Linked DNA regions of Homo sapiens: region 1 is linked to region 2. The links come from fine-mapping of genetic effects on plasma protein levels. A gene starts in region 2. The other region holds a variant in brackets. All regions are shown on one strand. Distances are from middle to middle.

What was found. A credible set is the group of variants that fine-mapping cannot tell apart. PIP is the chance, under the fine-mapping model, that this variant and not a neighbour inherited with it causes the effect. The UK Biobank Pharma Proteomics Project read protein levels with antibody pairs (Olink). The fine-mapping took linkage between variants from a reference panel, not from the people measured, so its PIPs are less certain.
Region 1: its variant is the best candidate, but not a certain one, in a credible set for the plasma level of the CCN4 protein (UK Biobank, PIP 0.57).

What each region holds. Positions count from the first base shown.
Region 1 is chr8:133,112,190-133,115,091 of GRCh38, reverse strand. TG (thyroglobulin) reads right to left here. Exons shown (of 48, transcript NM_003235.5): 44 at 1,489-1,670. Among named protein-coding and RNA genes, the nearest start is that of SLA, 11 kb to the right of the region's middle. The variant T/C (reference allele first, on the strand shown) is at 1,297.
Region 2 is chr8:133,188,605-133,191,499 of GRCh38, reverse strand. CCN4 (cellular communication network factor 4) reads right to left here and starts at 461. Exons shown (of 5, transcript NM_003882.4): 1 at 287-461. The coding sequence starts at 355.

The DNA of each region.
Region 1 (2,902 bases), 76 kb after region 2:
TGATCTAGCCCAGTCCTGACTTGATTATAAGCCTCTCAGGGTCAGGGACTGGACATCTGAGAGTTCTTATGGTCCAGCCCAGGGCAAGGCCTCCCAAAATAGCTGTTGGCTGTTTAATCTAAAGTGGAGATCTCCACTAGAGGGAAAATTAAAGCCTTTTAGTCCGCAAGATCCAAGTGGGTGGTACAGTTTTATTCTGAGCCAGTGACCCTCCAGTTGGAAACCACAGGCTCCTGAGTGGAGAGACCAAGCAGGGCAGTGGGTCTCTAACACCTTCCAGCCCATCCCTTCCCAACAGGCTCCAGTTTACCAAAGGATGCTGAGCCTTGACATTGGCTCTGTCCCCAGGGACAACAAGCAAATGGGCCTCCCAGAAGGAGAGAGAAAAGGAGGCACAGAATGTAAAAAGCACTCGCATCCCACCCATTCTTCCCACTGGGACTGGAGAGCCCTCAGAAAACCAAGATGCGTCACCTGTGAGGGGACTCAAAGGTGACCTGAGAGCTGCAGTCCCCACTGTGGTCTCATCCTAAGGAGCTCAGAAGGAAGAAAGGACTGGAGCCCTGGCTATTTTCTTATTTCTATTCAAAAATCATTTCTTGTGCATCTGCTGTGCATTTCTGTAAAAGTTCTCAGCCTCAGTGAGCTCATGCAGTACTAGGAGAGGGAGGCAGGTCTGTCCCGACAACCCCTGGGGCCGGGGGCGTGCTGCAAGAGAGGGACCCTGGGGACAGCAGGGCCTGGGGGCTGCAGCCTTTAGCCATCTTGGGGTGGGGGTTTGGCAGCCTTCCCCAAGTGAGAGAAGCTTGAGCTTGAATGGGGACAAGGCATGTAAGCAGTGGATACAAGAAACAGCGGGCCCCAGAGAGAGGGCGCAGGGCTGTCAGAGCTTGGGCTGTTCCTATGTGGGGAGTGGTATCAGCCACAAAACCTCCCTGCCTCCAGGCCTCTGCTTCCCACGTGCCGGGTGGGCCTGGACTGCAAGGTGGAATCAGCTGAGGGAGCTTTGGAAAATGCTGCCCCACTATGGGCCCTGTGTGTCACCTACCCTTTAAATGCGCTCACGTGTGCCTGATGGGCAGCCAAGACTGGGGGCACTGGGCTCAGTGAATGCAAGGCCAGGAGCGTGGAAGGTTGTCCTGAGCATTTGCTGAGCGGCTGCTTCAGGTGGAGCGTGCACCAGGCACTTCTGGCAAGTGCTTCGTCTCTGCCCTCCGACAGCTCCCTCATGGCCCAGGAAGAGCCAGAGTCACCCCCTCATTTCTCTCATTGGCTTGGGGTTTCCTGGCAGCAGGG[T/C]CCACCCTACATGTCCTCCAGGGCTTCCCCTCAGCAGGGACACTCCCCATGCTGTAGGCTGAATGAATGATGCAGAGGAAACCTCAAGCACAAAGCCACGTGCCTTTATTTCTCATTCATGACCTGAACACCAACTGAGTCTGCTCCAAAACATAGCAGTAGGAATCTGCACCCTCCTGCAGCTTAGCTTACCGGGTGGCATTCTCCAGAGCCCGGGAGAAGGAGGCATAGTCATCCGTGGAGTGCTCCAGAGAGTAATACCATGTAGCAGCAGCCTCGACGCGGGCATCTGAGTCCTCGCCACCCAGAGAATTCTGCAGTGCCTGGTAAAAGGCTGTTTTGCTACTGGTCCGGCCTCGACTTTCCTCAAATTGCTAGAAAAAAAAAAAGATACGAAATTCCTCAGTTGGATTCTGAAAGGTCCAAGTCAGTGTCCCTCAAACCCTTGCTCTAGAATTTTCTCTCTGGGAAGCAGTGGGGCATGGCATTAAACACAAGTGGAAGCCAGACTGTCTGAGTTCGAATCCCAGCTCTGCCTCCTTCTAGCTGTGTGTCCTTAAGCAAATGGCTATCCCTCTCTGTGCCTGCCTTCCCCATCTGAAAATGGGAGTGCCTGCCACATAGGATTATGGCAAGTAGTTACAATGGTACCTGGCACTTAATAAGTGCTCTGTTAAGGTTAACCATTGTTGCAGTCTGAGAACAGGTCAAACCCCCGAGTTTCACTTGCTTTCCCGGGCTCCTTGCTCAGCCAACTCATGAGTAACTGTGGTCTGGTCATGTTAGGAGAGCTAAATTCAGTTTCATTCATGGACTCAGTCACTCATCATATGAATGCTTCATGCACACTTTCATACAGATAGTTACGCTTCACCAGGGCCAGCAGTGCCCCAGGCTTGGAGAAACAGCCACAAACATGCCGATCAAGCTCCCTGTCTCTTGGGGCTCACGTTCTAGTGGCAGAGGTGGAAAATGAGCAAATAAATGTATGGTATATCAGGGAACAGGTGCTACAAAGAAATATAAGGCCATATACGAAGGATATGGAATGCTGGGGCTGGGGCTATTTTATATAGGATGGCCAGGAAAGGCACGCAGTTCTCTGGGGGATGTGTGTCCAGATGGGCGCAACTTTTTCTATTTTCTTTTCTCTGTCTTTCTCTTTCCTTCCTTCATGCTTCCCCTTTTCTCTCCCTTCCCTCACCTTCTCTTCCCCTCCCCTTCTCTCCCCTTCTCTCTCCTTCTCTCTCTATTTCTCTCTGAAATTCCCCCCTCTCTCTGTTCCTTCCTTGTTCTGGTGTTGCTGCTGTCTGCACTGTGGGAGTCTGGGGCCATTCACTGCCTTCCCCCAGGACCCAGTTTCCTCCTTTCTGAAGACAATGGGCAGGGGAAAGTCTGGGATGCAGCCCCTGGTGTGAGGCCCAGCCTCCTGGGCCCCAGCACAGTCCTGTGCTATGTGTTTACATATTTCTAGGACCTTATGTAAACGGTGCAACGTGCTTATCAGCACACTCTGGTGTGTTTAAATTGCTTCTCCAAACATTTACAAGCACACAGGACCTGTGATTAGAATTCCATCAATGTGATTAGAATTCCATCAATGAGC
Region 2 (2,895 bases):
GCTGAGGGCCCCGTTCTTTCTGCACTGTTTCAGGTGGGGAGAGAGGGCAGGCTGGACCTGTGCAGTTTGTTTCCCCAAGTGTCGCACCGTCCTCCTCACCCTGCCAGCTTCAGCCAACCTGGGCAGCTGACTCCTCACCCTGGGCTCTGTCCTTGCCCTGTAAGTGGCCACCTTCCAGCCCCAAACCTTCCTGGCCCTTTTCATCCTGCCCACCAGCCCCCATGTAGCAGGACCCAGTAGAGAAGGGAGCTGGGTCTCCCTCTGAGCCCCTCCAGGCAGGACTCACCGTGGCCAGGACGGTGCTGGCGGCTGCTGCTGTCACTGCTGCCAGCGTCCAGGGCAGGAACCACCTCATGCCTGGACGTCAGTGGCACAGGCATCGACCGAGCAGCCCAGAGGATCCGACCACCTCTCGGGGGAGCTGGGCCCAGACTGGCCGGCCCATCAGGAGCACCAGATATGCCTCTTCCGCAGCCCTTGGGGGGTTTTATTAAAGCAAGATCTGACGTCAGGGTGAAGGACAAACCCTGCATTTTCCTCTGAAAAAACTTTTCCTGCCTCTCTCTCTTTTTTTTTTTTCTTTCTTCCCTCTGTCCCCACCTCCAGCCTGAGCTTGGCCAGCCTCCCCAGCTCTGACAGTTCTTAAAGGGAAAGTTACAAGGCTATGACTTCACACTAGGGTGTGAAATTCTCACAGAGGAGCTGGGGTCATCCTGCCTAGGTCTTTCACTACTGTAGGGAGGGGGGAGCATGGGAGGGTGCAGGATGTCCGAGGAGATACTGTTACCCCAGGCAGGCGGGTGTGTGGGCTTTGAGAGGGCTCCCAGTGGGAAATCAACTCCCTGTCATTTCTTCAGGCTGCTCCTACTTCTGGTTTTCTTTTTCCTTTTCTTTTTCTTTTTCTTTTCTTTTCTTTTTTTTTTTTTTTTTTTTTTTTTTTGAGACAGAGTCTCGCTCTGTCGGCCAGGCTGGAGTGCAGTGGCGCGATCTCTGCTCACTGCAACCTCTGTCTCCCAGGCTCAAGCAATTCTCCTGCCTCAGCCTCCTGAATAGCTGAGATTACAGGCATGTGCCACCACACCCAGCTGATTTTTGTATTTTTAGTAGAGACGAGGTTTCACCATGTTGGCCAGGCTGGTCTCAAACTCCTGACCTCAGGTAATCCGCCCACATCAGCCTCCCAAAGTGCTGGGATTACAGGCGTGAGGCATTGCGCCCAACCCTACTTCTGGTTTTCATTTGCCCTCTTGCACTCCCCTCTACCTAGCTGCAAGCGAAAGAGGTGGCTTTCAGTCCACCCATCTAGAGATGATAGGAATTCACAAATAAAATGAGCTCTGAGGCTCAGGTTACAGCATCACCTTCATGACACGTGAAAGCCACGGTAACGCATTTGCTGTTTGCCGTCTCTGCTCATTGGTCAGAAGCCGTTTGGTGCTGGAGCTGTCCCCACGTGTCTCTGGATGCTTGCTATCCCTGGGGGGTTGGGTTTCCTGGCCTGTACCCTTATTGCACTGCTGCCACTGAGTCTCTTCCTTGGGCAAGAAAGGAGATGGGATGTCTTCTATGGGCTGTCCTAGTCCAGCCCTGTGCTCCCCATGGGGACCGCTGCCACAGCCTCCTGACTGATACCCAGCCTCCCTGCCCACCTTCTACCATCCACACATCTCAGAGCAATCCTTGAACTAGCGTCATGTATAGATCATCTTCTGGATACAACTGTCCAAAGCCTGCCCATCACACAGCACAGAGTCCCCAGTCCTGGCGTGGCCCCTGGGCCAGCCAGCTCCCTGTACACTTCTTCCTCTCTCCCTTTCGTGCACCATGCCCAACCACAATGGCCTCCTTGCAACTCCTCTCACACCTTGGCAAGTTCTCAGCATCTCCAGGTCTCAGTAGGAATACTCGACACTGAGGTTTAAATGACAGTTACTCCTTCTCTTCTCTTTTCCTGTAGCTTATTAACAAGGGATGCTGAAGCATGTGTGGCTGCTTGGAGGTAGCAGCAGGCTTGTGTTCATGGAAGAGGTTTATGATCCCTATAGACATGACCCCAGAAGAGATGGTGCTCATGATTTCTCCATTTACTGACCTGGGGATGTGCCTCTGATCCAATTCCGGCCAATGAGACATAAGGGAAACCTGCTAGGGTCTTCTAGAAAAGATTCCCTTCCTCAGGAAGAGAATGACCATCTACTCATTCTTTTCTTTCCTTGTGTGCAAATGTGATGGTTGGAGCTGCAGCAGCCATTTTGGGTATATGAGGCTGAGAATAAAAAGTCAACAAATTGAGGATGGCAGAGTGGAAGCAAAAAAAAGGTCTGAGTCGTTGGGACTTCATGTTGTTGTTGGAGCCACCATTCAGACTTCTCATTACATGAAATAATTTAATATTTTATTGTTTAAACTGTAGTTAGTCTGAATTTTCTTTTGTTGGAGTCAAGTTGTATACTAATTGATACATGAGGATTACTAAAATCATATATGTAAAATTAAAGGGCAGGGTATGTGGGGGGCATGTAAGGACTGCCCAATAAATGTCAGTCATTTTCTTCTCATTAATTTATTGATGCTTAAAAACAAATCCCAGGCTGGGCACGGTGGCTCACACCTGTAATCCCAGCACTCTGGGAGGCCGAGGCGGGCAGATCACAAGGTCAGGAGATCGAGACCACCCTGGCTAACACAGTGAAACCCCGTCTCTACTAAAAATATAAAAAATTAGCCAGGCATGGTGGCGGGCACCTGTAGTCCCAGGTACTCGGGAGGCTGAGGCAGGAGAATGGCGTGAACCCTGGAGGCAGAGGTTGCAGTGAGCCGAGATCGCGCCACTGCACTGCAACCTGGGTGACAGAGCAAGACTGTCTCAAAAAACAAAACAAAACAAGCAAACAA